Homo sapiens: one gene and its partners. The protein of the gene in region 1 purifies or fractionates together with the protein of each later gene. This does not show direct contact. Each region holds a gene or a part of one and is shown on either strand. Other genes may lie near its edges. The genes, in order: TANK, ANAPC7 and KIF5C.

Region 1 (3,459 bases):
TACTGTCACCCTGGTGAGGAACATGTCAATATGATGTGCTTGGCACCAGGAGAAGTCGAGGCACCACTCTCATTCTTCCACAAGTTAAGGTTCTTCACTGTGGCACAGAGGCCTGCTCAAATTCCCCCATCCCACACCCTCTAGTTTAAAGCACTTGCTTCAAGAAGGCTTAAATTTCTGAGAGTTGCAAATCAATGCTTACTTCATAAAATGGAAGCCATGCCTTAAACACTTTTAAGAATCAGGGGAAAACAGAAACCTATAAGGCGAGAATCATAGGGAATAAAAATGAAAGGGAAGTCTCATTTTAAACAAATTTTGCAGCCGTCTGAATTTGGTATCCACTCTCTCAAATGTCTTCAGTGGCCATCAATCAGGCTGCTAACAATGAATAACAAATTTCTCAACAAGAATATGAACATTTCTAATCTAAGTTAACAAATATAGATAGTCCTTGCAGGGTTTTAGATTTTCTCCCGTTAAAAACAAATGTTTCTTTAGAAAGTTTAGTTTGAAGAATAATTCTAAAATTCAAAGTGATTCACTAATTGTAATAAATGCCACCAAATCTGGTCATCACCATTCTATTAGGTTACTGAAATGAAAACATGAATTTTATAAACTTCCCTAAAAATGTGATTCCTTCCTTCCCTTTTTTTTTTTTTTTTTTTACTCAGGAACAAAGGACATACAAATGATCACAACATAAGTACCTCTTAATATTTAATTAATTTCATCATGTAGCTATACACACAGTAAAAATTAAAGCCATGTATATTATTTAAAAATCTAAAGTGTTTAAATAATTCTACCAGTTGTTTTATCACTGGACAAGAAATGTATTAGGTTTGATATTTACAAAGATGTTTATGTTGTCTGCTATTTTCTATTATAGGTTTATTCAAAGAGAATATCACCTATAGCATAAATAATTAAATTTTTCAATAAAAACAAACTAAAAAAACCCTAGAAACATTTGACATCACCAAATTCAACAGCTCTCACTAGAAATCCAAGCAATAAACTTAGATATTTGAAATAAACATAAATTATGATTATATAACTCTAAGTCACATACATAATTTTGAATTATAGTAATAGCACTGTAAACATGAATACAAAGGATTACAGTTTTATACAGAATTTTTTTTGTTTTTCTTCTTTTAGGCTTATTTCTCCTTGAAAGAACAGAATGATCTTTTAAAAAATAAGAGTTATATAGTAAATCCAGAAAAAAATTCAAATAGCTGTGAAACTAGATTTTCCTATAAATGATCTTGAATTTAGTTTACAATCAAGTATTTATAGTATTAAAAACCCAAAATCATCACATAGAACTTGATATGTCTGTTTTCAAATGTGTCTTAAGTCTCTCCATTGAAGTGTGAATTAAGATGCCGAAGGAAATCCCCCCTGGATGTAATGGATGGTGGGAAAACTGCTTGACAGAATTCACATACTCGAGGTATATGCAGTTCTGAGTCTGTGCCACTTAGTACCACCGAGTCACTGTCTTGATTAGGAAAGGGCTTCCAAATGGGCTGCAGGAAACAAACAAAAATATCTGTTACTTATGTTTAAATTCAAATAGCACTGGACTTCAAATTTGAATTTCTGAATGAGTTACGCATGGGCATATATATTGAATTCCCTAATATAAAAGCAAATTACTTTTCCGTAAAGTTAGCATGACATGACTCAATTCGTGGTTTCATAAAGGGCACAACTAAACTTTGATTAAAAGTCACTTGGGACACACACAGTCATGCATTTTATCTTTATATATTTAAAAAGATTGCAGCTTTAGCATGCAATTTTTAATACTCGATCACAACAGCAGTAGTTTTGGAACAATAGCTAATACTCTGGTCTTTTAAATTAAATTCTATCTTTTGTTTTTTACAATAAAAACCTTAAATTATAGGGGCTTTATTAATTACATAGTACACAAGACATGATGTGTGTGTGCATTGCGTCTTAATCAAAATCAATTTCACTACTGTTTATAAGCAAATACAGTGAATACATCATACATGAATCAGCATTATTTTGATTTTTAAAAAGAAAATTTTCCTTTTAAACTACTGAACAAATTTCACTGATGTTATCTTTTGTTTTTAAAAACACAAATATTTAATCATTCAACAAAATCTAACACATGCAGTGTTTTGACTTCTTACTTTGCTTCTGTTATATAATAGGTAGTTTGGCCTTACTCATTCTTGTGGCTGAATAAAGTGAAACTCGTCAATAGTTGCCTGGTTAAAGAATTATGGAAAGTCATAATCTAACAGAACCACCTCCACTATAACCAGCACATAAATACCCTTTCATAACTGCATTTATTCTTTTTTTTAAATTTCTAGAAGGACAAGAAATAGCATTTAGCTTAATAATAGCTACACAATAGATGTCTGTTAACTGGAAAATATTTTCCTGAATTGTGTAAACCAAATTATTTTTTAAAATTTCTTATGTGGACACAGGTAAATTCCTCTGACACAGCTAAATTCTGATATTTTAAGAAGAATCATCTCATAAAGTCAAATTTAAAGAGACCCCTTATCCTCCTATTACTAATATGTTTTTAAAGTCACACATCCTAGTCTAGCACCTGACAAGTGTTACTGTTATTTCCCCTAACTTCTTTCATTCTGGTTAACCAATCATTTACATAAACAGTATATTACTAATGGAAGCACTTGGATTTCACGACATCACTGTCTTCTTATGAACAGTTTACTGGACAGCTGTGTACAATTGGTGTAAATATACAACGTCTGTCTAGGCACCCAGACACATTCAAATATCAGTATGGAGGACTTATAATAATGCTGACTCAATTCCTTTCATAAGAAATGTCAATTTTATTACAAAAATAGTAATATTTAAAATAAATGTTATAAAATTTAGGGTAAAATAACTCTCTGGAAAAACTTCTTTGATAAAAGTAGTAAAAATTGTGAGCATACAAACAAAAATCTAGTTAGAGTTAACTTGATTCTAATTTTAATGTTTTCAGTTTAAACAAAAAAGTACAAATCACTGTAATGGGAAATTGATATGGCCAAAAATAAAAGATTATTAAAGATAATTCTTATTTATATAAAATAGTAAGAAATTAAATCAGAAGCAATTTAGCTTCTAAATTTGGTAAGCCAATCTTCTACTCCCAATTTACCTATTAAATCCATATTCATTTTTCTCTATTAAGAACTTTTAGTTCAGATTTGATCTCTTCATAGAATTTAGTTGGGATCCCACTCACTGACTCAGCAAAGTAAAAAAGAAAATCACATAGAACAATAATAATCTGATATACTTTAGTCTTGGTTATGATAGCTGAATATATAAAATAGATGTTTAGTAGTAATGATTGATAGAAAGTAAAATTTTGAAATATGTAGCCAAAAATTTCACTTGTCTTTGCTACTATCTACAAACAACTCAGGATTTTTT
Region 2 (3,656 bases), on another chromosome or scaffold:
CACCAGTGTTCTCTTGAGGATGTCTGCAAAGAGATGGTCAGAATGGTAGTTGTGGTTTTTTTGTACATGACTTAAGTGAGGGTCTTTTTTATTCCCCCAGGCAGAGAACAGAAATATGAAGATGGAATTGCTTTGCTGAGGAACGCACTGGCTAATCAGAGTGACTGTGTCCTGCATCGGATCCTAGGAGATTTCCTTGTAGCTGTCAATGAGTATCAGGAGGCAATGGACCAGTATAGTATAGCACTAAGGTAGGCACTAGCCTCCCTTGGGGGAAGGCCACTGAGGAGGGTAGAGGAGGCAGTGAGCTGTGTCACAGGAGTTATGGAAACACACACACACTTTGTGTCCATGGTTGAAAGCAGAATAATAATAGTAATGGTAGAAGAGTTATTTGTGAATTCATGACTTCTAAAAATTTTTTCTTAAAATATATTAACAACATTAGAGAACTGTTTCACTCATAACCATCCCACACCACTATAACATCTGTGTTCATTTGTATAGCTCATCTTCTGTCCTTGCCCACACACACATATTTTTATAGGGCTGTACCTAGTATATATTTTATATTCTTCTTTTTCAAATCAAAGTATTGTAAGTACTTTCCCATGTTTCTATCTACTGTAGTCATTAAGAACTTGAGGTCTGAAGTTTTGAATACTACCTTCACCACCTGTGATCTTGGGCAAGTTACTAACACATTTCCTTGTCTATATCTAGCTACCTTATTAGATATTAAATGATCGAATGAGGGTTAAATGATTATTTCATGTAAAGCTCTTAGCCCTGTGCCTGGTACATAGTAAATGCTAAATAAATAGTGGTATTCTTACTGTTTAATACAGAAGTGGTTTCTTTGAGGGTTGTCTGTGTGTCTGTAAGGTTATGGTGAAGGGCTGTCTTTAATAGAGTCTGATCACATTCAATTGTTCAGCACACAGTTGAGCACCACTTGTGTGCCTAGCATCTCAGTGACAACTGGAGATGCTATGTTTCGGGAGCTGTCAGTCTCAGACATGCAGACTGGCCATGCCATGTGCTAAGGGCTTTCATAGTAGTCTGTAGAAGGGAAGGTGGGAGTCCAGAGGGCAGGAGCCCTGGGTATGGGTGAGAGCTTCAGAGTACAGGATGTGGAAGGCTTCAACCAGGAGACGAGGAGATGTTACAGATCGGTCCGCATTTATATCGGTAGAAACGGTGCCAACATGGGTTTTAGCTGCTTTTTAGAATCTCAGAAGCAAGTGAGAAAATAAAATATCAGACTTCCATTAGAGGTGGGGTTTGCTAGGCGTGGGACGCCTGCTGGCTTGGGTGATGGTCACTAAGGCAAGAGGAAAGATTGCTTAGGAGGCAAATAAATGAATGTTCTAGAGGCTCTGAACTTTGGGGGTGGGGGTGGCGTATGTACTGACACTCAGCTGCTAAATGTGAATGCTTGGGTAGGGGTAGCCTTGGGTCCTGGGGTCTGACCTAGGTGTTTACAAGTCTGTTCCATGGTACAGCGTGATGTTTTTGGTTGGCTCCTGAAATGCTGCTATGTTTAATTACATCATAAGAACATGGGACACCTATACTCAGAGAAATTCCTATTTTTTGTAACCCTGTAGCTCTAAAACCCAACTTTCTGGGAATTCCATTTGAATTTACCTGGTAATGTTTGTTTGCCACTTTTTCATTTGTGTTATCTGGTAGCCGCCTCTAGCAGAATGCTAGGGGTAATAGGTATGAAAAAGTTTAAGAAATTTGTGGAGAAAAACTCAAATTGAGAACTCTAAAAATTAGGAAGAGACTCCTTTTTGCACTTCTGGTGGTGGACTCCCTCAACCCAGCCTTGGAAGCCTGAGTTGTTTGGAGAGGCCAGGCTTTAGCACATTTTTTGGGACTGTGTGGTCATTTCACTGCCGGGCCAGGGAGATGACGAATCAGCCAGCAAGAGCAAGGCAGAGATTCAGGCCTCTCCTTTGTTTTGTTGTCCCCTAGTTTGGACCCCAATGACCAGAAGTCTCTAGAGGGGATGCAGAAGATGGAGAAGGAGGAGAGTCCCACGGATGCCACTCAGGAGGAGGATGTGGACGACATGGAAGGGAGTGGGGAAGAAGGGGACCTGGAGGGCAGCGACAGTGAGGCGGCCCAGTGGGCTGACCAGGAGCAGTGGTTCGGCATGCAGTGAGGGGGCGGCAGCTCCATGGCCGCAGTGGCCTGCCCTGCTCTGAGCACTTCCGTGGACTGAAGGAACCGTAGGAGCCTGCTCTCAGAAGGACAATGATTCAGCATGTGATTGCAGCAGGGGTCTCTGCCCCCTCGCTCCCAATTCCTAGTCGTGACTTCATTTCTAAAACAGAGCCTGACCAACCTTCCATGTATCTCCATCCTCCCCTGCTCCAGCCAGGGAGGACTGAGGGAGTGCCCCGAGACCCACGCACATGTTGGGGCTTCTGGGCCAAGAGTACTTTTTATATAACTAATTTCTAAATCCAAAAGCTCAAGGAATAGACAGTGTTCTGTGACATGGATTGGTTTGAAGGAGTTACCCACCATCCCAGCACGATAATGTCATCTCCCAAGTTGGATGGCAGCACGATCTGGCCCTAGGGAGCTTCCTGTTCCCAGAAGTCATTGTCCTGGGCTATCCAGATGTCCCTAGTAAATCTTGCTTCCTTCTGCAATGTTAGTAATGCCTTAAGCTGACAGTTGCTATTTTGCAGAACAGTTTTCCTCTTTGCTTAGCTAGTAACTTGCCTCTGAGCCTGGGCTGATCTGAGAAACAGGTGTGACAAGAGCATGAACCAGAGGTGCACCTGGGGCAGTTCCCTAATAAAACTGGTTTGTACAGTCATGGTGTTGGGGTGATCAGAATGGAAGCCCTTTTCAAAATAGACTCTTAGTATTTTTGTCTTATTCGCAATGCATTGATTCAGCCCCAGAATTATTTGCCAGAAATAGACTTTCTTCCCCTGGTGTTGGGAGCCAGGAGGGTTGGAAAGCTCAGGAACCCTGAGCTGGTTCATCTGTTTGCATATTGGGTAGGTTAATTTCCCTGGAGCCTGAGAGTCTTTGGCCAGATTTCAGCTGCGTCTGCCTGGCTCTTTTGCTGCAGCTGTGAGATTGGGGTCTGGTTCCAGCAGTCTGTCACTGGTCAGCCTGAGTATCACACCCTGAGCTCTGGGGCTGGGAGTTTCTTCCCACACCCTCTCCCTTGTGCCTTAAGTTGCGATGGCTCTGAGTATACAATTAATCGGAGGTGAGGGGTGGGTGTCACAGCTAATCCCAAATTCAAAAATTAGTCCAAGGTGCTGCAAAATATAAATTTGATGTCAGTAGAAAGTCGTATCCTAAAATGTAAAAACTGTAAGTGTACAGTAGTTAATGAGCTCAGAACATCTGATAACTGCAATTTAAAATGGGCAAAAAGTTTCTATGAGTCTTTCAGTCTAAGACCCAAAGCCTGCGCAACATCACTTGATCTGAGCCACTTCTAAAGAGACATATAAGGCTAGGCGTGCTCACACCTGTAATCACAGCACTTTGGGAGGCCGAGGCGGGTGGATCACTTGAGGCCAGGAGTTTGAGACCAGCCTGGCCAACATGGTGAAACCCCCGCTCTGTTAAAAATACAAAAATTAACCGGGCATGGTGGTACACACCTATAATCC
Region 3 (3,656 bases), about 12 Mb from region 1:
ACAGAGGGCTTTTTTTTTTTTTTTTTTTAATCAAAAGAGAAGTTGGGCTTTTCTTAGTGGCTGTTGTATTTCCAGTACCAGGTAATTCCATGTATTTCTTAAGGATAAGGCTCTACCTCCCTCTTGTCATCCCTGTCCCCATCCCCTAGAGTACCATGAGCTCTGCACAAAACCTATAGTAAGATCTCAGAGCTAGGGCCTCCAGCCGGTGACAGGAAACAGAGCCTTTCAGTGTCTTCTGAAAGTTGAGCTTACTGATGTTGGGTGCAGGCTGACAGAGGCCATTCAGGCTGGTCTAGACGTTCATCCTGGAGATGCGCCCAGCACCAGCCGAACTTCTGGTGGGAAGTGGAATGAAATGGACAGGGGTGGTCTTTTGGAGAATCTTATTATCCGATGGAGACGAAGCATACCTTTGGGAACTGGGAACCTCTTTCTACAGAGAGTCTGGGTTAGGGGCCTTGTTGCACCTGCTTGCTATCCTAAGTGCAGGCAAATGAGAAATGTTTTAATTTCCCCCTAGGAATGAGAAAATGCATTATGTTACTCTGAATATCCATAGCCTCAACAGATACCGACTTATGGAAGAGAATGTTGAGACTGTCAGGACTAAATACTTAAAGCAAAATCAGGAAATCGGAGGTTGTGCTGTTCATGTGCCACTATCCACATGTGTCTTTTGAGCTCTCAAAATGTGGCTAAGTCCAAATTGAGATGGGCTGAAAGTGTAAAATATACACCAGATTGCAAACACTATTGTGTGAAAAAAAAAATCTCAGTAGTAATATTGTAATGTAAACGATCTCAACATGTAATACCAGTTACATGTTGAAATACTATTTAGGCTATATAAAATATATTACAATTAATCTTACCTATTTCTTTTCACTTTTTAATGTAGCCACTAGAGAATTTAAAATTAAATATGTGGCTTGGCCGGGCACGGTGGCTTATACCTGTAATCCCAGCACTTTGGGAGGCCGAGGTGGGTGGATCACCTGAGGTCAGGAATTTGAGACCAGCCTGGACAACATGGTGAAACACCGTCTCTACTAAAAATACAAAAATTAGCCGGGTGTGGTGGCAAACCCTTGTAATCCCAGCTACTTGGGAGGCTAAGGCAGAAGAATCACTTGAACCCGAGAGGCAGAGGTTGCAGTGAGTCGATATCGCGCCACTGCACCCCAGCCTGGGTGACAAGAGTGAAACTCCATCTCAAAAACAAACAAACAAAAAATATGTGGCTTGTGTTATATTTGTATCTGACAGCTCTGGTCTAAACATCTAGAATTAAACAAAACTTTTTTGAGGAGTAAATTTCTACTGTGTTTTCTAATTCCTATGTTCTCTCTTTGGTTCTCTTTCAACAGATATGACTCCACGTAGCATGTCAAGGACTACATTAATCACCAATTCCTTTATTTTTCCCCCCCTACAGTTTCCATTTTTTTTTTATACTTGCTTACTCCAGCCATCTGCAGTACACCAGTTTCAGGTCTTTTGAGCTGTGTAGAGTTTCTGTGTGTACAGATGTGTGCTCGGACTTTTCTCTTTTTGAGAAATCTGAAGGAGATGGTTGCAGAAGATCCACTTACTACTGAGAACCATTACCACCGACTCGGCCTCCGGGGTGTTGGGTGGTTTCTGGGTGGTTCCTGGAGCCTCCTCTGGGCAGTGCACTGTCCCATCTGTACGCCCTAATGTGCCATTCCCTAGAGGGGAACAACCAAGTGCCGTGGAGGCAGATGATCATGGTCTGCCTCAACTGTCTGGTTTCCTGTAAAATAAACACATTGTTTTATATTTTTAGGGAACAAAAAGTGCTGCTATAGGGTTCAAAGTTTTCCTTCTGAACACTTTTCCGAAACAAATTACCCCAAAGACACATTTTGAATATCCTGGTCACATCTTTGGATCTGTAAAATATACCTTTTAGTATGGCACCTGTTAAAATGCAAAGCAAATTTCTTTGGGGCAGAAAAACAATCTGACAGTAGCAGTGTAGAATTTGTTCATTCAAATACATCTGTGTAAATGCAAAAAGTCATAAAATTCACCTCCGAGCTGCTTGCTTTTGAACCTGCAGCAACTAGTCTTAGCCGGCCCGGTTTGAACATCGTTCTTTCAGAAGTGCTGAAAATGCTGCAAAGTTGGATAAGTGGAAATGTGGCTGCCCCTCTCCTCACTACTTCCTCTCTGATCGTTCTGAAGCTTGCATTGGGAATGGCTGCTTTCTCTAACCATTTTCAGCTTGAGTGGGTATTGCTGAAGAAATCCAACATCATTCCAGCAGTTGAAAAAGGAAGCCTTCGGGAGAAAGTGCTTGTCAAAATTTTGTTCTTTGTGCTTGTGTATGAGTAAGTTGCCATGAATAAGTTATTATTTTAACCCATAATTGGCGACTGTTTATATGAATTCTTTCTTTGGCACCAAATAGGTTTCATCTTCTTAGGCACAATTAGAAAAAATCCACATAGATGGATATTTTACATTTAGTTATTGCTTTATCCAAATACATGAATCTAAAGCTGAATCAACCCTTACTTCCAGTTGTGCTTATTAAGAAGATCAATTTCCAAGTAGTAAAGTTTTCAGGGAAACTGACTGTGCTGCTATTTGTTTTGACAAATTTGGGGGTAAGTCAATGACAACCAAACCAATCTCGGTGGAAACTCCTATCCTATCATGTTGTGTGCCCAAGATGAGTGAGCTGGCACTGTGCCCTGAAGCTTTCACCACTGTAATGAAATATATGCCAGGGGAGACTTTGGGCTTTTCTCATGACTGTGTGGGTCGAAGGTAGCTCAAGTGTGTGTGTGTGTGTGTGTGTGTGTGTGTGTGTGTGTGTGTGTGTATGTGTGTAAAGTGCTAAGAACTGTGCATTGACATCCAAACATTTCTTGTACAAAATTTCCCTAGCAAAGCAAACCTGCTTTGACTTAATTTATTTGTTAAATGTTGCACTTTGTTTATGTATGTTTTGTTTTTGGTGGGGAATAAGGAGAGAGAGGACGACAAATTCTATTGAAGTATTTATTTTGTGAAGATGGCAATTTTGCATTTGTTTAAATTTTTTTCATTCTTTAATTTTGTTATCAGTGCCAGCCCAATATACCTGCTCTACCATTATTTGCGGTCTGATAAAAGGGTCCTTGTGGGGCAGGTTTTGCAAAGCTTATCAGGTAATAACATATGCCACATAACCTTGTTGATATGTTTGCTTCTGATTTGGGAAGCTAAACATTGGTGTTTGAGAGGATTGCCAATTATTAATTGTCATTACCACTACTCTCCATTACTTTTTGTTTGGAAATTGAACAAAGGTCAGTAATGGTTTTTGGCTCTTGTTAATATCCATCATAAAATAGATTGTTTTAGATTCTTTCCAGGGTGATTTTTCCCTGGGTACCCCGTTTCTACTTCTAAAGAATTGCTTGGCACTTTCATGTTTCAAAGGGAAACATTCGCTTGTAGTTCCATTTTACTTGATCTCTACAAGGGACTGACAACATTTGCTTTACTTTTATTCACAGAGAAAGTTGGCTTTGATGTCTCTTAAAGATAATTCTGCTAGTTGCTGATCAGCCAGTCAGTTCACCTAGCTTCAATCTTTATAGGACTTCTAATCTAATTTTCCTATAGTGTGACTAAAAGGG

The links.
Region 2: the proteins of TANK (region 1) and ANAPC7 purify together in Homo sapiens (affinity purification with mass spectrometry, with the first as the bait; one large-scale study listed by BioGRID). This does not show direct contact.
Region 3: the proteins of TANK (region 1) and KIF5C purify together in Homo sapiens (affinity purification with mass spectrometry, with the first as the bait; one large-scale study listed by BioGRID). This does not show direct contact.

What each region holds. Positions count from the first base shown.
Region 1 is NC_000002.12:161,233,424-161,236,882, reverse strand, and holds the end of TANK (TRAF family member-associated NF-kappa-B activator), read right to left. Parts: intron 1,542-3,459; coding exon 1,365-1,541; 3' UTR 653-1,364; downstream 1-652.
Region 2 is NC_000012.12:110,372,661-110,376,316, reverse strand, and holds the end of ANAPC7 (anaphase-promoting complex subunit 7), read left to right. Parts: intron 1-100; coding exon 101-251; coding exon of another isoform or gene 252-255; exon of another isoform or gene 256-843; intron 844-1,983; coding exon 1,984-2,173; 3' UTR 2,174-3,417; downstream 3,418-3,656. UniProt on the Homo sapiens protein: Component of the anaphase promoting complex/cyclosome (APC/C), a cell cycle-regulated E3 ubiquitin ligase that controls progression through mitosis and the G1 phase of the cell cycle.
Region 3 is NC_000002.12:149,021,708-149,025,363, forward strand, and holds part of KIF5C (kinesin heavy chain), read left to right. Parts: intron 1-1,370; 3' UTR 1,371-3,656. UniProt on the Homo sapiens protein: Microtubule-associated force-producing protein that may play a role in organelle transport. Has ATPase activity. Involved in synaptic transmission. Mediates dendritic trafficking of mRNAs.